Linked DNA regions of Homo sapiens. The protein of the gene in region 1 interacts with the protein of each later gene in a biochemical or structural test. Each region holds a gene or a part of one and is shown on either strand. Other genes may lie near its edges. The genes, in order: TRPV4, HK1, CCDC102B, RAB29, DTNA, CYB5R2 and VCF2.

The links.
Region 2: the proteins of TRPV4 (region 1) and HK1 interact in a test that uses a peptide from one of them, tested with the Homo sapiens proteins (one large-scale study listed by BioGRID).
Region 3: the proteins of TRPV4 (region 1) and CCDC102B interact in a test that uses a peptide from one of them, tested with the Homo sapiens proteins (one large-scale study listed by BioGRID).
Region 4: the proteins of TRPV4 (region 1) and RAB29 interact in a test that uses a peptide from one of them, tested with the Homo sapiens proteins (one large-scale study listed by BioGRID).
Region 5: the proteins of TRPV4 (region 1) and DTNA interact in a test that uses a peptide from one of them, tested with the Homo sapiens proteins (one large-scale study listed by BioGRID).
Region 6: the proteins of TRPV4 (region 1) and CYB5R2 interact in a test that uses a peptide from one of them, tested with the Homo sapiens proteins (one large-scale study listed by BioGRID).
Region 7: the proteins of TRPV4 (region 1) and VCF2 interact in a test that uses a peptide from one of them, tested with the Homo sapiens proteins (one large-scale study listed by BioGRID).

The regions. Positions count from the first base shown.
Region 1 is NC_000012.12:109,782,551-109,785,507, forward strand, and holds the end of TRPV4 (transient receptor potential cation channel subfamily V member 4), read right to left. Parts: intron 1,888-2,957; coding exon 1,766-1,887; intron 1,229-1,765; coding exon 1,071-1,228; 3' UTR 539-1,070; downstream 1-538. UniProt on the Homo sapiens protein: Non-selective calcium permeant cation channel involved in osmotic sensitivity and mechanosensitivity. Activation by exposure to hypotonicity within the physiological range exhibits an outward rectification.
Region 2 is NC_000010.11:69,398,833-69,402,420, reverse strand, and holds the end of HK1 (hexokinase-1), read right to left. Parts: intron 1,431-3,588; coding exon 1,286-1,430; 3' UTR 539-1,285; downstream 1-538. UniProt on the Homo sapiens protein: Catalyzes the phosphorylation of various hexoses, such as D-glucose, D-glucosamine, D-fructose, D-mannose and 2-deoxy-D-glucose, to hexose 6-phosphate (D-glucose 6-phosphate, D-glucosamine 6-phosphate, D-fructose 6-phosphate, D-mannose 6-phosphate and 2-deoxy-D-glucose 6-phosphate, respectively).
Region 3 is NC_000018.10:69,053,045-69,055,706, reverse strand, and holds the end of CCDC102B (coiled-coil domain-containing protein 102B), read right to left. Parts: intron 1,678-2,662; coding exon 1,570-1,677; 3' UTR 518-1,569; downstream 1-517. UniProt on the Homo sapiens protein: During interphase, forms fibers at the proximal ends of centrioles to maintain centrosome cohesion. During mitosis, dissociates from the centrosome following phosphorylation to allow centrosome separation. Contributes to CROCC/rootletin filament formation.
Region 4 is NC_000001.11:205,767,445-205,769,995, forward strand, and holds the end of RAB29 (ras-related protein Rab-7L1), read right to left. Parts: 3' UTR 542-2,551; downstream 1-541. UniProt on the Homo sapiens protein: The small GTPases Rab are key regulators in vesicle trafficking. Essential for maintaining the integrity of the endosome-trans-Golgi network structure.
Region 5 is NC_000018.10:34,713,261-34,716,812, reverse strand, and holds part of DTNA (dystrobrevin alpha), read right to left. Parts: intron 1-3,552. UniProt on the Homo sapiens protein: May be involved in the formation and stability of synapses as well as being involved in the clustering of nicotinic acetylcholine receptors.
Region 6 is NC_000011.10:7,670,662-7,674,936, reverse strand, and holds the start of CYB5R2 (NADH-cytochrome b5 reductase 2), read left to right. Parts: upstream 1-1,436; 5' UTR 1,437-1,518; exon of another isoform or gene 1,519-1,556; intron 1,557-2,045; 5' UTR 2,046-2,111; coding exon 2,112-2,189; intron 2,190-2,413; coding exon 2,414-2,486; intron 2,487-4,275. UniProt on the Homo sapiens protein: NADH-cytochrome b5 reductases are involved in desaturation and elongation of fatty acids, cholesterol biosynthesis, drug metabolism, and, in erythrocyte, methemoglobin reduction.
Region 7 is NC_000023.11:55,147,681-55,151,232, forward strand, and holds part of VCF2 (protein VCF2), read right to left. Parts: intron 1-3,552.

The DNA.
Region 1 (2,957 bases):
CAGGCTCACCCACTGCCACGCCTGCTCCGTGCTGCCTGGCAACCATCCTCCCGCCTAGCAGGACAGCCCTCCCAGTATAATTGTCCCCTGATGAGCACCAGAGTCCCCGCACCTGCACTGTCAACCCCTGGCCAGCGTTACTCTCCCCTGCCCAAATGTACTGTCTCCATGGGGATCATTATCCCCCAGCCAGCACTACTGTCACCCCCACCAGCATCACTCTCGCCCTGCCAACATGACTCTCCCTGGCCAGCATTATTACCCCCACCAGCATCACTCTGCTCTCCTCCCTCCACCCCCACCTTCCCCACAGCCACACCAACCTCAGCCACCTCTCAGGCCACCACCACCACCATCACAACCACCCAGTCCAGCCCCCAACCACCAACACTCTAAATGCCTCCCGGTCAGGACTTCTGCCCTCACTCTCACCCCTGCCCCTGGCTCCCCCCAGGCATTTCCTAGCTCTCCCATCTCCCTCGCTGCAGTCTCATGCCTGTTACCATCCCTCCCACCCCTGCCATCATCCTGCCATCTCCACCGTCAATGAATAAACATTTATTGAGCACCGGCAAATCCCAGACACTACAGAACACACAGAAGGCATGGCCCCACGCCGAGGGCCCCAGCCCCTTGCAAAGCTGCCACGCTGCCAAAAATGGTGGCGCATGCAGCTCAGGCGCAGGCTGAGGCTGGGGCTTGGCCGGGCAGTGCACTTGGAACGGGGTCCTAAGGCCTCTGCCAGGTTCCAGCTGGGGCAGGGGTCACGTCGCTTCCTGAGAGCAGAGCAAATAAATAATGGAGAGGCAGGGGCTGGGGCCTGAGGTGGAGGGGCTCTGGCGTTGGCTTATGTGACTCCATAGGAGCAAGACAGGTGGCCGGGAGCCCCCACCCCAGGGTGGGGAGGCAGAGCCAGGGGACCACAGGGTCCTGGGGCCTCCCTGGCACCTCCACTGGTCCCTCGCCTCTGGGGCCAAAGCAGGGTGTGGGGGGACACCCCAGAAGGCACTGCTGAAATGCGGCTGGACTAGAAATGAGTGGGCAGAGAAGCTGGGGCTGGGCTGCAGTCCCTAGAGCGGGGCGTCATCAGTCCTCCACTTGCGGGGGTAACCCTGCTGGTGGCCATCGCAGCGGGGGTTCCCCATGCTGTCCAGAGGCACCACCACCTCGTCCGGGTTCGAGTTCTTGTTCAGTTCCACCACGCGGGGTACCACCGAGGACCAGCGATCTGCACCGAGAGCACATCAGAGGGAGGGGTGGGGGTTGGTGGAGAGAGAGCGTGCGTATATTGAGTGCCTACTGTGTACTGGGCACTCCACAGTGTTCTGAAGGGGGGATGTGACTATGCTCATTTTACAGAGGTGGAAACTGGGGCTCAAGAGAGGTCAAGGTGCCTCCCCAGGAGAGAATGGAGGAACCAGGATTCAAGCCTGGAGCCGAATGCCCTGAGTGCCTGTGTCCTCTCCAGCTGCGTCTCGCGTGCTCATGGCTTACTGGACAAACAGGAAGGTTTTCTCCACACAGGGATGGCTGAGGAGCTCGTCCTCCCTCCCCAGGCCAGCTTATGTCAACAGTAGGGAGGGCCAGGATGAAGCCACGTAGGTGAGGTGCCCCAGGCATTCACAAGCAGCAGAGGAAGCTCAGGGGCACACTCTCTCATTCTGTAGACACGGACACTGAGTCCCGGAAAGAAGCAGGACTGCTCAAAGCAAATTCGTGATGAGAATGGACTGGGGCTCCCCTCCGCACCCGCCCCTCCACTCACCCCTGCGGAGGCGGCCCACGGTATGCGAGAAGCCATAATACTGGTAGGTCTCATTCTTGCCCGGGTCCTCGTTGATGATGCCCAAGTTCTGGTTCCAGTGAGACCAGTTCACCTCATCCACCCTGGCAGGGCCCAAGCAGAGGGTCATGGGGAACCCCTCAGAGACGCTCTCCATGCCACCATCCCCAGCACACCCTCCTATTTTTTTATTATGGTAACATATACATAACAAGGCTGGGCGTGGTGGCTCATGCCTGCAATCCCAGCACTTTGGGAGGCCGAGGTGGGTGGGTCATTTGAGGTCAGGAGTTCGAGACCAGCCTGGCCAACATGGTGAAACCCCACCTCTACTAAAAATTAAAAAAAATTAAAAAAAAAATTAGCGGGGCATGGTGGCGGGTGCCTATAGTCCCAGTGACCCGAGAGGCTGAGGCAGGAAAATCACTTGAACCTGGGAGGCAGTTGCAGTGAGCCGAGATCACGCCACTGCACTCCAACCTGGGGGACAAAGCAAGACTCCATCTCAAAAAAAAAAAAAAAAAGACGTGTGTGTGTGTGTGTGTGTGTGTGTGTATACACACACAAAAAATTTGCCATCTTAATCATTTTTGAGTATACAATTCAGTGGCATTAAGCACATCCACATTGTGTGACCATCACAGCTATCTATTTCCAAAATTCTTCCATTCCCCCAAGCAGAAATTATTTTTTTTAACCTTCTTTTGAGACAGGGTCTCACTCCATTGCCCAGGCTAGGGTGCAGTGGCACGATCACAGCTCACTGCAACCTTGACCTCCCAGGCTCAAGTGATCCGCCCACTTCAGCCCCCCATGTAGCTGGGATTACAGGGATATGCCACCACACCTGGCTAATTTTTTAAAAACGTTTTGTAGAGATGGGGTTTCACTATGTTGGTCTTGAACTCCTGGGCTCAAGCAATCCTCTTGCCTCGCTTCCCAAAGTGTTGGTATTACAGTCACCACGCCTGGCCCAGATAATATTTCACTGTACACATAGCCCACATTTTGTTTATCCACTCATTTTTTTATATATTATCTTTTTTTTTTACATATTATCTTTAATTTTTTATCCTATCTATTCATTTTTGTTTGTTTGTTTTAAGGCAGAGTCTTGCTCTGTCCGCCAGACTGGAGTGCAGTAGTGCAATCTCGGCTCACTGCAACCTCCACC
Region 2 (3,588 bases), on another chromosome or scaffold:
GAGGGGTGGGGCAGAGCACATTTCATCCTTTGTCTTGGGGTTGGCAGAGAGGAAGATGAAGGGCAGGATCCGGGTGGGGATGGCAGAGAGGGGACCAGTGTTGCAGTCCTCTCACTGAACCCAAGCAGCCTGGAAGCCAAGTGGCCTTGTTCTATAATCCCAGCACTTTAGGAGGCCAAGGCAGGCAGATCACTTGAGGTCAGGAGTTGGAGACCAGCCTGGCCAACATGGTGAAACCCCTTCTCTACTAAAAATACAAAAATTAGCTGGGTGTGGGGATGCACGCCTGTAGTCTCAACTACTCAGGAGGCTGAGGCAGGAGAATCACTTGAACTCGGGAGGCAGAGGTTGCACTGAGCTGAGATTGTGCCACTGCACTCCAGCCTGGGTGACAGGGCAAGACTCCATCTCAAAAAAAAAAACTCCTCCGCCCAGAAGGCCACAAAACTCCCCAGTGTTTGGTCTTTGCCACATCCCAAGAAACTGCACCCCCCTCTGCCTGTCCCCCCGTCCCCAGCCATTAAGCATCACTCGGGTCTTTGAATTGGTACAAAGTTTACTAGGTCATACGACACGGCTCACAAAGCGGTGGGAAATTCCAGTGATGGCATTGTTTGTTGGTTGGTTCCTTTTATCCAAATGGAGACAAGACACATTTCCGCAGGACTGTCCACCTCCCCCCACGAGACAAACAGAATGCAAGACTGTCACACGCGGCTAGGACTGGTTCCACGGACACACGATTTTGTGGCATTGACACACCACGATGCGATGCCAGGCCACAGTGGGTGCCAGGAGGGGAGGAAGCAGCTAATGCTATGCCCACACTCGCCTTCAGGCAGTGCCCCCGGGAGGGAGGCCCGGCAGTGTCTGCTGGTGATAATACATTTCACACAGGGAGGGGGAACCCCAAGGATGGGCTTTGGAGGCCCAGAAGGCCTGTCAGGTGGTGTGATTTTCCATCTCCAGCCAATAAATAACTCTGTTGGATGAATGCATACATTAGAAATGGATGCCACTACACTTCACACGTGGGGGACCAGGTCAAAATCAAACCATGCAAAGTGGCAGGGCAAGTGAGGAGGGATCCGGGTGAGAGATATTATCAACAGCACACGCTCTATTCTGTACCCTACAATATATACCATTAGTTGGATTTTGCTTTCCTCCCCGCGCCGGCAGGCCCTGGCGCCAGCGTCTCCCAGCGCAACTCGCTGGGAGGGTAGGGGGTCGCCGCTTGAAGAGAGAAGTGCTGGAGAGGCAGTAGGCTGGGGATCCCGGACTCTTAGCTGCTTGCCTCTGTGCGTAACCGCACGCCCACGGCCGTGATGAGGGCGGCCCCCTTGCCGCTGCCATCCTCAGACAGGAGGAAGGACACGTTACATTTTGGTGACAGTTCCTTCACCGTCTGGTGCATGATTCTGGAGAAGCTAAAAAGGACGAGAAAACAGAAGGTAGTTGGAGGAAGATGAGAGACGCTGGGCCTACCCGAAAACACCAAAGCACAGACAGCCCCCTGACTGGTGATGATTCGACTTAGGATTCTTCGACTTTGTGATGGGTTTATCAGGACATAAGCATCGGAAGTCAAAGAGACTCTGAACCCAACAACAAGGAGGGTGAACATGGTTGGGAGGCAGGCTGCTTAGAAGCAGCTGTGGCCAGTTGAGAATGGCTGGGAGGAAAGTGGGCCCACGGTCAATCCCATTGTCACAGTTTTCAGCAGGGAGGCCCAACTGCGAATCCAAACACAACTGCTCTGTATGGCTTATGAAGGCTAGGACATGAATAACACACACACCCACATCGGAGCTTGAGGCTCCAGGGGGACCTCAAAACCAAGGAGGATGTTAGGGGCTGACATGGATCATTAAGGCAGGTGCAAGCCAGCCAAGCACTGGATCGGTTCAGGAGGCTATGCAGGAATGAATATCACCCATCTCCAGCTGCAACCCTGAGACCCCCAGCGCCCCACCATCAACAGCCTGGCCCCCAAAGACAGGAATGCCTTCCAGTGAAGATAGTATCTGAACAAAGGCTGAATCTACATGCTTGTAAGTTGGGCTCAAAATGAAGGGCAGGGCCAGGCTGAAGATGCTTGTGGTGAGGGGCTCTCAAAAGTAGTCACTGTCCTTGGTTGGGGACCTATTAGGTGGGCGGAGTGCGGTGGCTCATGCCAGCACTTTGGGAGGCCAAGGTGGGAGGATCACTTGAGCCAAGGAGTTTGAGGACCTACTAGGTGCCCCATATTTTACAGCTCTAATTTCTAGTCCTGCCAGTGGCTGCCACCTCATGAGGAAGATGAGATTTTGCAGGGATTAAGCAATTGCACACAGATTCTAAGTGACGGTGCCAGGGTTAAATCCAAGAGTATGTGGCTCCAAAGCCTAGCTCTAAACCACTCCTGTGTGCTGCCTCAGCTGATGGCAAGGACAGCTATTAAGGGGGAGAGACAGAGGTGAGGATGGAGCAAGACAGATGGTTCCACCCCAAGCCACGGCCATGAGGTAAGCAGGTAATGTCTACACTGAGTCGGGTGAGGTTGCTTATAAGTAGGGTGACACTATGGCCTCATTTATCTGGGATGGTCCTAGTTTGCCTACAGTCCCAGAGTAATAATTATTAGCACTCTTGACTGGCAAGAGTACCCTAGTGTAGACAATAAATAAATAATATGGTCACCCTATTCATAAGGTGAGACATGCGGTGGATCACAATCACACAGCAAGTGCAATCACATGTCCTTCTCTGGCATGGGGGGTCAGATGCCTGACCAGAGGGAGGCCACTCCCTACCCCTCCCTGCCATGAAGCCCAGGGCCCAAACCGCTCCCGCCCTTCCAAGTCTTAGCAAACTGATTCAGCAGATGAACAAGAGAGTGGCTATCCTCCTTTCCTATTTTATTTTTTGAAATAGGGTCTCACTCTGTTGCCCAGGCTGGAGTACAGTGGCGTGATCTGGGCTCACTGCAACCTCCACCTCCCAGGCTCAAGCAATCCTCTTCCCTCAGCCTCCCGAGTAGCTGGGACTACAGGCATTCACCACCATCCCTGGCTAATTTTCAAAATTTTTTTGTACAGACAAGGTCTCACTATGTTGCCTAGGCTGGTCTCAAACTCCTGGACTGAAGCAGTCCTCCCACCTAGGCCTCCCAAAGTGCTGGATTACAGGTGTGAACCACTGCACCCAGCTCCTCCCCTTTCTTAATATCCTCTCCCCACTTACCCAACAGAGCCTCTGGCCTGGCTACAGCTCACCAGGCTTATGAGTGAGCCCACGCCCACCCTCACCTCCTCTCCCACTGCCTAGCCCCCACCTAAGGGGGACCAGGAGGAGTGGGGTGAGGGTCACATCATGCCACTGGTGTGAGCTGGCCAAGTGAAGCCACTTCTCTGTCTCCCTAAGGATCCCAGTCAAACCCTACAAACTGTTCATTACCTTGTCCTAGACAATCCCCAGCTCCTGAACGCACAGCCTTCAGCCTGGCTGGGCTCCCGCAGGGCATTTCCCCAGCGTAAACCACACCCTGATACCCCCTAACCCAAAGGGATCCCAGCAAGCTCTGCGCATCCCAACTGGAAGGCCCAC
Region 3 (2,662 bases), on another chromosome or scaffold:
TTGAGAGGAAGACGCCTTGCCAGTTGCCCCACACCCACTTGGGGCACAGCCACAGAAAAGCAGAGAAACATGGTCAGGCAAGGGGAACCCTAATATTTAGCTTCTCCAAACTGTATTTGGTTCTCATATGGGATTGTGACTGAGATGAGACCTTGACCTGCGGCCCATCCTCAAGGCTCCATCTGGATGAATTGCTCAGTCAGTTGGTTGACAGGGGATATGATGGGATAGAGGAGGTCATACCAGAAAGCACTGAGATGGATCCAGTTCACAGGAGGAGTGTTAAGCAAAGAGAAGGAAGTTCACATTTAAGCATCAGAACCCAGCAAGAGTACCCAGCGACAAGATAGATTTCATTACTACACAGCCTAGCAAACACACACCAGTGCGCACTTGAAGATCGGGCCTCTTTGCCCCTCAGTGCTGCGTTCCTATTAGTCATACAATCCCCCATGTTTGGGAGAGAAACAGGGAAAAAGTGAAGACTCAGTGAATGACAAAGGCTTTTACAATGAGAGACTCTGATAAAAGTGGTCTTTATTCAATAATGAATTAGTAAGATTTCATTTTTTTTTGGCTAATCAATGGAGGGGGAGATGAGTAAAACCAGTATGTTATTGACTGAGTTAAATCTTACAAGTTGCCTTCAGTTGAAAATAGGTATGGAAAATTATAAGTGTCTTTTTGTTCAAAATAACATTTTACCTTAAAAACTAAACTTAAATATGAAGCAATAAACTATAATGTACATAAAAGTTTTAAAGAAATATTCACATAACCACAATTTCCTAATTTTCTCTATTCCCACTACTCAGAGGGAAACCACAGCTTAATTTTGGCCTGATTTCTACCTAGATGCTACTTTGCAATGCTGATGCCTTTCCATGATTTTACTGTAGAAATGTCTATCCAGATAAAAGTCAAAAGTCCTTTTAGTTTCTCAGCGATGCTTACAGCCTGTCTTAGATTCAATCACTGGTTATCTGTTACTTTAAAATACAAAACACTTTTTTCTGATTCATCTGCTCACTTCTGTTTTATACAAAGATTAGAAATGACTTATAAAATTATATAAGAAATGTATTGTTACACCTCTAGAATGATTCATTTTTGTTAATACAACCTGCCATCCCCACCACATAGACAACACGTACATAAAAGTTTACCAATTATTTAAACAAACCAGTACTTTATACTTAAAGTCAATGGTTTTCTTATTAATGACCCAGCGTCTTGTATGGTTTTCAACTTACTTTTTCTTACCGATATTATAACTCTTTCAGATTTTATGTAAAAAGTATTCTGAAAGCCCTTTTTGACTTTCAAAATATTTACACATCTTAGAATTAAAGTTGTTTTTAAATGACATTTAAATTGTCTTTTTGAGAATATGCAGTATCTGTTAGGCAAAAATTAGAAGAAGTGAAGAAGCCCATTAATTTGTGTATTGTCTACGTTTTTTTCATTAATATTTCTAGTTAATAAAAACAATTTTACTGATATTTAAGAAAAGGATATGGAAATGTCTTTAAGGCCCTAATCTTTAATTCAGCATATTTTGTGAAAAAATTACCAGTTTTGCAAGTGCCTGAGTTCAGTCTCTAAGTTTTCATTTCTTTCTTTCTCTTCATCCAGAGACCTCTGGAGCTTACGGATCTGATTCAGGGAATCATCAAGCTGAAAGCGAAGTAGAAAATGCTTTAGTTAGGTTCAAGTGTTCTATAGTACATCATGGTGGCTATAGTAAATAACATCTTATCATATTCTTAAAAATTGCTAAGAGAATAGATTGTAAGTATTCTCACCACAAAACTATAAGTATTTGAAATAGTACATATATTAAGTAGCTTGATTAGCTAGTCTACAATGTACACATTTAGAAAAACATCATGTTGTATATCATAAATATGTACAAATTTTACTTGTCAATTTAAAAATAAAATTTAAATTGAAAAACATGAGGATCCATTCTATATAAGACACAGCTTTCTATCTCCATCTTAATAAGAAAAGCTCTTAATGAAAAAAAAAAGTAGTTGAAATAAAGTAACTCTTTAAAAACAAGGTATATGTTTGTATGACAGTAACTTACCAGTAGTGTATGTGTGAGTTTCTTTTGTATATGTGCATGAATAAATGAAAATATTCATTTATTTTAATAGAGTTAATGTACATATTCAGTAATAAACCTCAAAATGATCTCTGAAATATTTGACAAAATCCTTTCTATGTAGCCACTCTTCTCCCATTTCCCCTCTTGCCTCCCCTAGCTATAAGTCACTGAACTATAACTTGTGTTTTTTATTCCCATGGCTTTGAACAAAATACACGTGTATGTATACATATTCACATATACATATGCTAAGTGTATATATATATATATGTGAAATATATTTATATATATTATTGAAAATGTATCATTTTAATTGTTTTAATTAAAAAAGGTATTTCATGCTATATGTAATATTCTTGCTTTTTAAATCCAACAGCTAAGACTCATCTACAGTAATGTTTCATCTGTGGTCTCTTTGTCCTCTCTATTATAGCACTGCATTACTATGCCATGACATATATACCTACCCTCCTTTCCATGAGTATTTATATTGTCTCCAGCCCTGTGATGCTCTGAACATTCATATATACTGGGTCCCTTGATATCCAC
Region 4 (2,551 bases), on another chromosome or scaffold:
AGGCAGGTAAATCCTGAGTCAGCAAATGGGAAAAGCAAGCACATTCAGTTTTTCAAAAAGGTCACGTTTCCAAGTAGTATTTGGCATGTTCCATCAAGTACTGAATTGGTACTAGGCAGATGGATCTAAGCAATTGGTATTAGTAAGTTAACAGGTAAACAGAATAATATTTACCTTCATTTTAAAAGAAGGTATTTAACCACATTTCTCACTTGTAAGTGGGAGGTAAACATTGGGCACACACATAAAGATGGGAACAACAGACACTGGAGACTCCCAAAAGTGGGGAGAGAGGGAGTAAGCGTTGAAAAAGTGCCGACTGGGTGCTATGTTCACTACTTGGGAGACAGGCTAAGCAGAAACCCAAGCTTTAGCATCACACAATATATCCATGTAACAAACTTGCACACGTACCCCTTGAATTGAAAATTTAGAAAAAGGTATTTAAAAAATAAAGTCTCCATTTCCGCAATCCTCTTGAGCTATCAGTATAAAACAGCACTTTGACAAACTCACATTAAAGGCCAATAACCACCATGAATACAAGACTTAGTTCTCATTTATTTGTGATTTTGCAGGTGTTCAAACCAATGAATGAAAATCAATTATCTCTTCATATCAATGAAATTCACTATTTCACTATTATCTTCAGAATCATAGTGATCAAAACCCTACCTGAAAATGGTAATACAAAAGAGAACTATTAATACAAGGTTTCAGAAGACTGTGCAAGTTAAAATAATTGGCATTAAAACGACACACAACAAACCACCGAAGGTTTGGTCCCTTTTCTCTCTGATATGTGGCCTCTGATCTCTTTCTTAGGGCAGTGGTTTTCAACGTCTGTGTAGCAGAATCACCTGAAAAGCTAACAGAATATATAGAAACCCAGGATTTGTATTTGTATTTAAATGTAAATACAAAAGGTCTGGGTCTCTGTATCTTTACAAAGTTCTCCAGCAATGGTTTCCAAACCAGGCTTATCACAATCACCAGGGAAGCTCTGAAAACAACAACACATTCCTAGGCTTCATCCCTAGAAATTCTGATTCAGTAGGTTTGAGGTCGGGACCCAAAAATCTTTTTCTTTTTGTTTTTTTTTTTTGGAGATGGAGTTTCACTCTTGTTGCCCAGGCTGAAGCGCAATGGTGTGATCTCAGCTCACTGCAACCTCTAACTCCCAGGTTCAAGCGATTCTCCTGCCTCAGTCTCCCAAGTAGCTGGGATTACAGGTGCCCGCCACCACGCCCAGCTAATTTTTCTTATTTTTAGTAGAGACGGGGTTTCAGTATGTTGGCCAGGTTGATCTTGAACTCCTGACCTCAGGCGATCCACCTGCCTCAGCCTCCCAAAGTGCTGGGATTACAGGTGTGAGCCACCACGGCTGGCTCAGGACCCAAAAATCTTAAAACATTTTTAAAAAATTTTAACAAACTTCCCAGGTATTCCCGACCAGCCAGATTTGGGAACCACTGACTTAGGACACTTATTTAAGGTCTATCACAGAACTTCAGGCCTCAGAGTTTAGTAAGAATATCGATAACTTTGGGTAGGTTATAAATCACCATCCTAGAGATAATTTAACAAATTAAATGGTCTAGTAGTGATTTGATACTAAAAAGCCCTGCCCAATTTAGTACTTAAATTACCTAATGATTTTCTGTCTATCTACTTTCCTCCCCCAGGCTAGGACCTGCACATAATATGTTTCCTATGACTAAGTGCCTACGTGTTCACAAAGTTGCCCCAGTGGAGGTTGTTAACTTCTCTCTTTTCTTCTTCCATTCAGATTCCCAAAGCTGTGAGGAGCAGACCTATTTCGAAGCATCACAGCCAGCTGATGTCACTTGCAGTATTATGCATTAAGACATCAACCCAGAAACCTGCAAATGGGAGACACTAGGCAATCCTATCATGAGGATTAAGCTCTTTGTGGAAGAAAATGCTTTCATTGCATGAGATAGGTAGTTTAAAAATGACTATTCTTTTTTCTTTTTTTTTTGAGACGGAGTCCTTCTCTGTCACCCAGGCTGAAGTGCGGTGGCATGATCTCGGTTCACTGCAACCTCTGCCTCCCAGTCTCAAGCGATTCTCCCACCTCAGTCTCCAGAGTAGCTGGGATTACAGACACGTGCCATCACGCCTGGCTAATTTTTGTACTTTTAGTAGAGACGGGGTTTTGCCATGCTGACCAGGTTGGTCTCGAATTCCTGGCCTCATGTGATCCGCCTGCCTTGGCCTCCCCAAGTGCTGGGATTACAGGCATGAGCCACCATGCCCGGCCAAAAAACTTGACTATTCTTGATGCCAAGACAAGAGAAACTTAATTATGACGTTAGAAGTTTCAAAAATACAGTGACTTCTGGGACACTTCTAGTAGCCAAAAATCCACAGATGCCCAGACCCCCTCCTTCTGCATTCCAGAATCAGATGTTTACATTCCAAGACAGAAAGAATCTGAAACAACGGCCTACAAGAAATTTGGGAAATGACATTTGATCTCATTTTCCTCTCAATTGGAAGTCATGATATCAATGAATATCAAATGGAA
Region 5 (3,552 bases), on another chromosome or scaffold:
GTAAAGGGATTCACAGACTTTTCTACTCTTTAACATTATTATTTTAATAATTTCATAAATTTGCATATTTATATTAACTCAGCTAGTTAGTAGCATGATTCAGGCATTCCAATTCTTAAGCCAAGACTCTTTTTCTACACCATGTTGCCTATACATGTTCCATCTAAAGAGTTGGGAAGTCAACAGTTAGACCAGCATATAGCCATGTCTATGACTTCTTGCAGCTTTTTTTCTTTCTTTCTTTTAATTGAGATGGAGTTTCACTCTTGTTGCCCAGGCCGGAGTACAATGGTGTGATCTCGGCTCACTGCAACCTCCGCCTCCTGGGTTCAAGCGATTCTCTTGCCTCAGCCTCACAAGTAGCTGGGATTACAGGCGCCTGCCACCACGCCCAGCTAATTTTTTGTATTTTTAGGACAGATGGGGTTTCACTACGTTGGCCAGGCTGGTCTCCAACTCCTGATCTCAGGCGATCCACCCGCCTCGGCCTCCCAAAGTGTTGGGATAACAGGTGTGAGCCACGGTGCCCGGCCGACTTCTTACAGCTTTATAGCTTCTAGAGAGGAAATACGAGCTCATGTGTTTTCTATATTTCTTGGATTTTCTTTTTCAGACTGCTATTGTCTGAAACAACGAAAAACTATGTAAATACGTTAGACTATTTATTTTGTTAGGACATATTCCTAGTAGTAGAACTGTAGGGCCCAAGGATATGCAATTTTTAAAGACTTTGCTACACATTGCCAGCTTGATCAACTCCCCACCTGCACCCAGTGTACACTGCTATATGATAGCAGTGTATATGTGTTCCCATTTTCCAGACTTTTCCTAAACCAGACATTATCTCCCCCTTCCTCCTTTTGCTTTCCCCTTTAAAAAATAGTTGCTAATTATTAAAATGACATGTGTTTAATTTGTAGATATTTTTAAAATTAAAAGGGAAGTGCTTTTTCTTACAGATTTATGAGACCTCATTACATAACATGGATATTCACTTTTTCTCTTTCATATATGTTGCAAATGTTGTTTCTAATTTGCCATTTATCTTTTTAATTTTGTATATAACATATTCTAGAAGGAGTAAGTTTTCATATTACCATTCCTTTATGATTTTTGTCTTTGAGGTCATCCTTTTCTATCATAAGTTCTATATTTTCTTTCACTACTTTCATAGATCCATATTTTATACTGGAATTGCCAATCCATCCAGTATTTTCTTTCATGTCAGGGATGTGTAGAGGTAAGTAATTTTTCTGAGTAAATGTTCCACCAAACAAATCAAAATTAACAGGTTTCAGATATAAAATATTGTTTATTTAAAATAAATAATTAAAAAATTAAAAACAATTAAAATATTGAAATGGTGTCTAGTGAACATTTCATAACATGTGTGTTTGAGAGTGGGGAATTATTATAGTAATACCACTCTAAAATATCCAGCTAATAATACCATGAAGTGAAGACCAGTTAATTGCCCCTTTATATACTAAAAATATAACTAATTGTTCTTTCCTAGAAATGAGTTTGCATTTTTCCTGTCAGATACTGACCCACACATTGTACAATTCTTGATAAGTTTAATCATTTTTTTTTCTATTTTTTATTATTATACTTTAAGTTTTAGGGTACATGTGCACATTGTGCAGGTTAGTTACATATGTATACATGTGCCATGCTGGTGTGCTGCACCCACTAACTCGTCATCTAGCATTAGGTATATCTCCCAATGCTATCCCTCCCCCCTCCCCCCATCCCACAACAGTCCCCAGAGTGTGATATTCCCCTTCCTGTGTCCATGTGATCTCATTGTTCAATTCCCACCTATGAGTGAGAATATGCGGTGTTTGGTTTTTTGTTCTTGCGATAGTTTACTGAGAGTGATGATTTCCAGTTTCATCCATGTCCCTACAAAGGACATGAACTCATTATTTTTTATGGCTGCATAGTATTCCATGGTGTGTATGTGCCACATTTTCTTAATCCAGTCTATCATTGTTGGACGTTTGGCTTGGTTCCAAGTCTTTGCTATCGTGAATAATGCCACAATAAACATACGTGTGCATGTGTCTTTATAGCAGCATGATTTATGGGTGGCTGGGTCAAATGGTATTTCTAGTTCTAGATCCCTGAGGAATCGCCACACTGACTTCCACAATGGTTGAACTAGTTTACAGTCCCACCAACAGTGTAAAAGTGTTCCTATTTCTCCACATCCTCTCCAGCACCTGTTGTTTCCTGACTTTTTAATGATTGCCATTCTAACTGGTGTGAGATGGTATCTCATTGTGGTTTTGATTTGCATTTCTCTGATGGCCAGTGATGGTGAGCATTTTTTCATGTGTTTTTTGGCTGCATAAATGTCTTCTTTTGAGAAGTGTCTGTTCATGTCCTTTGCCCACTTTTTGATGGGGTTGTTTGTTTTTTTTCTTGTAAATTTGTTTGAGTTCATTGTAGATTCTGGATATTAGCCCTTTGTCAGATGAGTAGGTTGCGAAAATTTTCTCCCATTTTGTAGGTTGCCTGTTCACTCTGATGGTAGTTTCTTTTGCTGTGGAGAAGCTCTTTAGTTTAATTAGATCCCATTTGTCAATTTTGTCTTTTGTTGCCATTGCTTTTGGTGTTTTAGACATGAAGTCCTTGCCCATGCCTATGTCCTGAATGGCAATGCCTAGGTTTTCTTCTAGGGTTTTTATGGTGTTAGGTCTAACGTTTAAGTCTTTAATCCATCTTGAATTGATTTTTGTATAAGGTGTAAGGAAGGGATCCAGTTTCAGCTTTCTACATATGGCTAGCCAGTTTTCCCAGCACCATTTATTAAATAGGGAATCCTTTCCCCATTGCTTGTTTTTCTCAGGTTTGTCAAAGATCAGCATTCTTATACACCAACAACAGACAGAGAGCCAAATCATGAGTGAACTCCCATTCACAATTGCTTCAAAGAGAATAAAATACCTAGGAATCCAACTTACAAGGGATGTGAAGGACCTCTTCAAGGAGAACTACAAACCACTGCTCAAGGAAATAAAAGAGGATACAAACATTCCATGCTCATGGGTAGGAAGAATCAATATCGTGGAAATGGCCATACTGCCCAAGGTAATTTACAGATTCAATGCCATCCCCATCAAGCTACCAATGCCTTTCTTCACAGAATTGGAAAAAACTACTTTAAAGTTCATATGGAACCAAAAAAGAGCCCGCATCGCCAAGTCAATCCTAAGCCAAAAGAACAAAGCTGGAGGCATCACACTACCTGACTTCAAACTATACTACAAGGCTACAGTAACCAAAACAGCATGGTACTGGTACCAAAACAGAGATATAGATCAATGGAACAGAACAGAGCCCTCAGAAATAACGCTGCATATCTAAGTTTAATCATTTTTGATGACAGCCTCTATCGCTTATTGAACAAAACCAAGATATTTTATAATAAAGTCTGATAATAACATACCAAGCACCTCTATTCCTAGTGACTTATAAATGCTATTAACATAATTAATTAAATTTGAGGGTTAATTTCTGAGAATCATACTACCCATTAGTAATTTC
Region 6 (4,275 bases), on another chromosome or scaffold:
CTGATTCTTATGTTGAAGCCCTAAGCCCCAGTACCTAAGGATATGACCTTATTTGAAGGTAGAGCCTTTACATAGGTAATCAAGTTAAAACAAGGTCATTAGGATGGACCCTAATTGAATATGACTGGTGTCTTCATAAAAGGGGAAATTTGGACACAGGGACACACACAGAGGGATGAAAATGTGGAGACATAGGAAGAAGATGCCCCTTCTCCTAGCCCCTCTCCTACAAACCTAGGAGAGGCATGGAACAGATCCTTCCCTCACAGCCCTCAGAAGGAACCCACTCTGCCCACACCTTGATTTTGGACTTCCAGCCCCCAGACCTGCGAGACAATAAATTTTTGTTGTTTAAGCCGCTCAGTCTGCGGCACTTTGTTACAGCAGCCCTAGCAGAGTCAAACAGGTGGGGATCTGCTTCTGGGCTTCTCTGTTTCACACAGGTCCTGAGGCAAGAATTTGCCTTTGCCTGTAATCAAGGGCGAGCCGGGCAGCCAAGGTTCCGAAACGCACCGTGAAGACCCTCTAACTGTGCCTACTATTCTGCTCCCCTCCGATCGGCGCGGGGCTCTTGTCCTTCCTCTCTCCACCCAGCGAATGAATGAACGCAGGAGCGCTCGGAGTACACGTCTTCAACTCGGCGACGCCCCTGCTTCGGCCCCACCCCGCAAACACCCGCCCCGGACCAGGCCCAGGGTAGGCGCCCATGAGGTATGTCGAATGAATATATTCGCGCGCTCTTTGCAGCTGCCTGAATTCTTCCTTCCCCAGCATCCCCCTCCGCCCGGTCACCCAGACGGCCTTCTCCAGCCTTGCCGAGCTTAAGTAAGCTGAGGGGCGCTCAGTGTGGCAGCTCTGCGTGTGCAGGGAAGGGGCCAGGATGCAGAGGGGCAGCGCAGGAGCGAGGACGCCACGGCTCAGCGCCCCGCCAGCCTCATGATGGAGCGCTGCCCTGGGGGCAGGGCTGACCCAGAGCCAGCGGCTCGTGAGTGAGAGCCCCCCGACCACGGCCCTTCTCGGGGAGCGGGCCAGCCGCCGGGGTCCCAGCCTGCGGGGTCCGCCCGCGCTTTTGTCCTCCCGGGCGTGCGTGTCCGGGTCTCGGCCGGTTCCCCGTCGGCCAGGCGGAGCTGCGGGGCGACGCCACGAGTCTGCGGGCCCGCGGCGGGGAGCGGCCCCCGGCCAACCCCAGTTCGACGACGTGTTGGGCGTCTCACTCCGGGTGGGTTCCGCGGCGGGGTGTATTTATGGAGTATTGAAGAAATATCTCCGTCGGGACGGCCGGAAGGAAAGAGGCCAGAGGCGCGGAGGCCGGCTAGAGCCGGGAACGAACGTCCGACCGGGAGGTTGGGGGCCGGAGCGGGAGGCGTGGGGAGAGGTCGTGGGCGGGACCGCGAAGGGCGGGGAGTGGGGCGGGCCGGCTCGGATTCCGGAAGGCTGAGACTCCAGTGACCCGGCGGGAGGAGAGGCAACTTTCCCTGTCGGGCTTGAGTTGGGAGAGGAGCAGGGCGGCCTTGTAGGGTAGGGACAGATGCGGGGAGGCTCCCGAGTCTCTGGCAGTTGAGTGCCCAGGCCCCCTTCGCCCTGTCCAGGAGACTGTTGGGGAGTCCCCAGGCCCTAAGTCACGGGGCACCTCTTAGAGCTACGCACCCTAGTTCTGTCTTTAGGGACTGGGCCCCTCATTCCGGATTGTGTGTTAGGGGTGATGTCCTCCCCCTTCACCTCAAGGAAGGGACTTCCAGTGTATGAACCTTTGGCTGTAGCCAGGAGGGGCCTAGTGACCTGAGCACCCCAGGCCATGTGTGCTGCCTGCTCCAGGGGCCTGAAACATCCTTCCTGTGTGACCTGCAGCTGACCCCTCCCTACCCTCTGGTCCACGACAGGCTCTCCCAGCCGCCTTCTGTGTCACTACTGTTCTCTTTGCCTATTTCCTGCAGGCAGAGCTCAGCTCCTGTGCCTTTGGTGTGGGGAGGGTGTTCTGCGCCTGAGAGCTGCCCTGTCCAGGGCGGGCAAGACCTGAGGTGCTCTGTTCACATTGTGTCTGCCAGGACCCGTCCCTGCTCCTGACCATCACCGTCACTGGGGTCACTGTGCTCGTGTTGGTCCTGAAGAGCATGAACTCCAGGAGGAGAGAGCCAATCACCTTACAGGACCCTGAAGCCAAGTACCCGCTGCCCTTGATTGAGAAAGAGGTAATGGGTCAGCCCTGTGGGTGGAAGGCAGTAAGTGGATGATGGCTGGGATGGCAGGGCATCCAGACAGTCATCTCATGGCCTCCAGTTCACTCCCCGCCGCCCTGTGTGTGTGTGTGTGTGTGCTGGAATAGCGCCAAACGGACCTCCTTTCCCAGGCATCTCAGCTGCCCAGCAAGGCTTCTAGAAAGCTGACAGAACCTGCCTATGTTTTGTTTTATCAGAAAATCAGCCACAACACCCGGAGGTTCCGCTTTGGACTGCCTTCGCCGGACCATGTCTTAGGGCTTCCTGTAGGTGAGCCGGGCTTGGGTCATCACCAGGACTGGGGCCTCTGGGGGCTAGGCCCTCCTCTCTTAACAGAAACACAGGTTTCCCACGTCCTGAGGTGTGGAAGATGCCCTCTTGCTCCTCCTGAGCCTGTGAGCTCAGGGAGATAGATAGGGGGATGGATGTGGGACAGAAAATTTCTTTTCTTCATTATTCCAATTGGGCTGACACGAGAGTGGTACCTCAGTGAGCATTGAAAAGAACTGAACCTAGAGCCAAAAGGCCTAAAATCTCATGGAAGGCTCCTTGCTGGGGAACTTAAGGGAAGTCCTTCAATCTCTCTGAGCCTCAGTCTATGAAATGGGATTTCCCAGGCCTGCCTGTCTACCTCACTTGGGTTGTTGTGAAAGTAGAGTGACTGATGGATATGAAAATTCAGAAACTACAAAGTATTGTGCACCTGGGAGGGATGGGAGGAACCAGTGGTCGGGGAAAGGCCCAGAATGTGCGGGTAGGCAGGAATGAGTCAGGTGTGCCCTGCCCCCAAGGTCACTTAGATTCTCTGCAGGGGCCTCAGACCCACATAAGGAGGGACCAGCCCTACGAGTTGCAGATTCCAGCCCTAGGAGTCCTAGAGTTGAGTTATCCCATTTCTAATCTGTAACACCACTAGATAGCTGAGTCAGTCTTAGTGCAGTAGAAAACTGCTAGAATCAGGGATTCAGAGCAGCTTTGTATAATCTGCTAGTGCTGCTTGCCTGCCTGGTGGATCCTACTCCGTGGCCTATTTGTCTTATATGCACAGGCCAAAACCTTGACCTCAGCTCTATCAGGTGGTGAGATTACACTCTAGCCAGCTCGCTGGGCCCCTGAGCCTCCTTGCTGTTCCCTCACTCCATCTCTATGCACGAGAGCTCAGTGTTGTGCGTGCCGTCTCTCAGCTCCCTGCTCGGCCTGTCAGGCAGGTCCTGTTGGCAGGAAGCCTAAAAGAATGAAAAACTTTGAGATAGAGAATTGCTTAGAAACTGCCTTGACCCACTATCTCCTCAGCCTTGGCCTAGGCCGTGCAAAGTTAGTGGGACAAGGTAATGTAGAGGCCTCTGGGAGAGTCTAATATGAGGCCTCAGAGTTCGCTGCTTCGTCCCAGCCCAGTGGAAGTGAAGCAAGTTAGAGATGGGGCTTGAAGGACCAGCCAGGGAGCCCCATTTGCCCTGGGGACACCCTCAGGCCAGGCCTAGGTGGCTGCATATGAAAGAGCCTTTCCAGGTTTCCAGTTTCAGGTTCTCAGAAGGAAGCTAGGTGTCTCACTTACTCCTGGCTATCCCTGGTGCCCAGAGGGACCATGACCAGAGTCATTGAGCCTGTTCTGAGCCCAGAGTGTTGGCACCTCAAAGACTTGGCTCATCCCCTTGAATCAGCTTCAGGGACCAGCCCCTCTAGTGCCTACTCTGCCTGCTTTTTTCTCCTCCTGCCTCCTCCTCCTCCCTGCACCTTAGGTCTTGGTTTCTATCCATCTCTCTGTTCCATCTTCCTTGTCTCGACTAATTTCCCGTATGTAGTCCACTCAGTTTCTGAGCGAGTAGAAACTGAGGGAGTAAACTGACTACATACATACAGGAAGTTAGTCAAGGGTTAGGGTTACAAAACTTTCTCTTGCCTCTAGCTCTTAGTATCTCTTGATTGCACTCCTGTCCCTGCCACTAATTGCCTTAGTAATTTGAGTCTCACATTTTGGATCCAACAGGTCGTAGCTGCCCAGTGTGTCATCTGACAGTGGGATGTAGTCATGATCCATAGGTCTCTGGCCACACCTGGT
Region 7 (3,552 bases), on another chromosome or scaffold:
TAAGGTAAGAACTAGAAATCATTTCTGATGAATCAAATTTTCTTCTCCAATGACAACATATTGATTTTACACTGTAGTGCAACACTAGGGTGATGCTATGCTGTGTACATTAAAAATTCATAGGCTAGAAGGGATTTCTTTAGAATAATTATTAAGAAAAAAATCTACCTTTAATTTGTTTCATTTTAAAAGTTTTTAAACTCAATTGTGTACAGATAGAAATGCTCATTAAGACATTTTTATGCTATCAATATTTTTATTAGCTGAAAATCAGAAATAACTAAATGTTTAAAAACAAAGAAGTATTTAAATTATAGTGCATGCATTCATACAACAGAATCTCATCAGCCATTAACAATAATGATATATCATTCTATATCAGAAGTCTTTATACTTCAGGTTCTTAGAAAAACCTAAATTTATAGGCTATAAAAATAGTTAACAGAGAAATAACTAAATGATGACATTCACAGCTTTCATCTGAGTAAACCATTTAAAAAATTAATTAGGTAAATGTAATAGAAAAAATGCCTGTAAATAAACTTGTCATATAATTTAAAATCTAAAGTTATATTAAGTTAAATAATAAATACTCATTAAACATCTGGATGATTTCTAATTTTTAAAAAATTATAGGAAAATATTTTTCTAAAAAATATTTTCTTATTTAAAAGAAAATAATTTTTGTCTAATTCAAAGGTTACTTAAAAGTTATTTATGAAACAAGGTGAAAGAAACCAGTAAATAAGAGCAATGTAAAGAAATGTCTCTTTCTTTACATACTATATATTTACCTCTTTATAAATATAAAGGGGTATTTTTGGCAAGAAACGTTAAAAGGAAAATAATTTTATATGAGAAAAAATCTTGTATGGTAAATTTCTGTCCTAAAATAACTGGTTATTTAAGAAAGAAAGATGTCTGGGATAAAACAGGAAGTCCAAGCATCTCATTAATGATTTGTATCAAGTTGTCTATAATTAAAGGGAAATTATTTATAATAGTCTTTTTAGAGATTGGGTTTTGATTTTTTAAAAAACATACACTAAAGAATCAGTTAGAGCAACAAAATTTTCTTAAGGTATTGATTTACTCTCAATAAAATTACAACGGATTTTAATTTGTTTAACCCAATTTTCAACTTTTATTATCTTGTATTTTCAGCTTTCTCTCCCCCTTGAAAAGGCCTGAGATAATAACCCTCTCCTTCAACTCATTTTCAGCTTCTGTAATTTTTCTCCTCAGGTTCTAACTGTTTGTCATAGCCTGATGCTAAAAATGTTTTATCTTAAAGGTCTAAAGAAAATGTTTTCTTCCAACATAACATTCTGTGCTCTTGGCTTTAAATTTGTCCATGAATCTGAAAATTTTCATTTATTACCCAGGAAACACTCTGCCTATGTCTAACTAATTCAAGTATCATTTTCATTAGTTTTGATTTGCAGCTTACCTAAATGGACTTTCCATAGGGAATATCAATTGTACTGCAGGAGGTTTTTTTTTTTTTTTTTCTTGCCTTTTGGTAACTGGTCTAACAAATTTTACATTTTATCAAAATAACTCCTATGCCATTGTTATTAAGTTTTAATTTGCTTAGAAAAAAACTGAGGTTAAATTTTTCTTTTAAATCAAGGTTACTATATCCACGTAACTTTCTTGCTTTTAAAGTCCTTGTGCCTTTAAGTTACAGGGCGTTGACTCCTGGATATAAAAAGAACACCAAGTCTTGCTAAATCTTAAACAATGACAGCAGTTAAAGCCTTATCTTCAGACCCAGTAGAAGATACCAATCAAAATACACTGTGTTCATAAGGCACAAGGCCAGAAATTAAAACTATTAAATTCCTCAAGGCCCAGGGACTATCATGGAAGAGGTGGGTGTGTGAGATTGTAACGGCCAATTTTGAGAGATAAAATTAGTTCAGTTTCTCTATAAATTAACTATTAATATTGAAGGCACACTGATGCAAGACCAGCATCTGGGCCCCGATGTCAGAGTAACAAGGTTTTCTTGGCGCATTAACCCATTTCTTAATTAAAGAAAAATAAAGGTTATGAAAAAATTTATTGAAATTATATCTTATGGTCAAGATGACCAAAACTTAATAAATTTGTTTGGAAAAATTTAAAAGACAGATTTAATGGGCCTCATGTTGTCTTTATGAAAGCTTATGGTTTGGGAAATTAAGTCTCCTGTCTCAAAAAAATAAAAACTTTTGTCTTTCTTTGAAATCTATCACTCAGCTAAATGAATGACTTATTTTACAATGACTTTTGATCCTATTTTGTGATATCAAGTGTTTTTAACTTTTTCTAGTTGACAAACTTTCCAAAATAAAATTCTAAATTTGGTCCTCATTAATCTTTTAATATTAGGTCCCCTGACGCCCAAAAGAGACATATTTGGGTTATTTGATATAATACAATCATACAAGAAGTATTGTCAAATATAAAATGGCATTTAACCCTTGGATTATATTTATATAAATGTGTTATTAGTATGTGTTTCAGAATTGTATGAAATTCCTGTGATTCTGATATGTCTTGGTACATGTCAGCAGTCCCCAACCTTTTTGGCACTTGGGACCGGTTTTGTAGAAGACAATTTTTCCACAGATGGGGGAAGGAAGGGATGGTTTCAGGATGAAACTGTTCCACTCAGATCTTTAGGTATTAGATTCTCATAAGGAACACACAGCCTAGATCCCTCACATGTGCAGTTTACAACAGAGTTTGCGCTCCTATGAGAATCTAATGCTGCTGCTGACCTGACAGGAGGCAGAGCTCAGGCAGTATTTCTCGCTTGCCCACCACTCACCTCCTGCTGTGCGGCCTGGTTCCTAAGAGGCCGTGGACCAGTACCAGTCTGCAGCCCAGGGATTGGGAACCTCTGGTATATGTTATCAGTAGTAATAATGATTATGTAAAATAGTTGTAAGCCACAGAAGTAACCAAATTTCCTTGTCAATTATGTCTTTATGACTGTTCTAAGACTCTTGTCATTCATAGTTGTTTTACTTTTATCACTTTCAAAAGGTGGTTTTATAATCAGCTATAGGACTCTGACAGGTACTCTTGAATGCAGGCTTCTGATAACTTTGGAGACTGTGATACTAGAATAGAGGAAAAACTTCCAAGACTCCCACAGAGAGCTAATGTGTTCATAAACATTGAGCAGAACAGGAGTTAATTACCCAGATGAAACTAATGGAAAACTGAAATAATCTTTTTGTGACTTCGAAACATTGTTTGAAACTCAGAAACTTTTGTTTCTGAATTTGTAACATTGTTTCTTTTTCTAACTTTTGTTTCTGAGTCCAGAAAACCATTTTTCTTTGAGCTATTTTGCAGCTTTTAATATTGGGTTAACTATGTTAGTGTGAGAAAAATCTGAAGCATATTTCTACCTGATTTTTCCAGAATTTGAAAACTATTTGCAAGTATACGTAGTTTATGGTAGTATAGTTATTTGCAAAAAATTGATAAGACTCTGTTTTCTTTTGTAACAGGACACAATTGAAGGCACTGATTTTACTGAGGCTTTGATTGGAA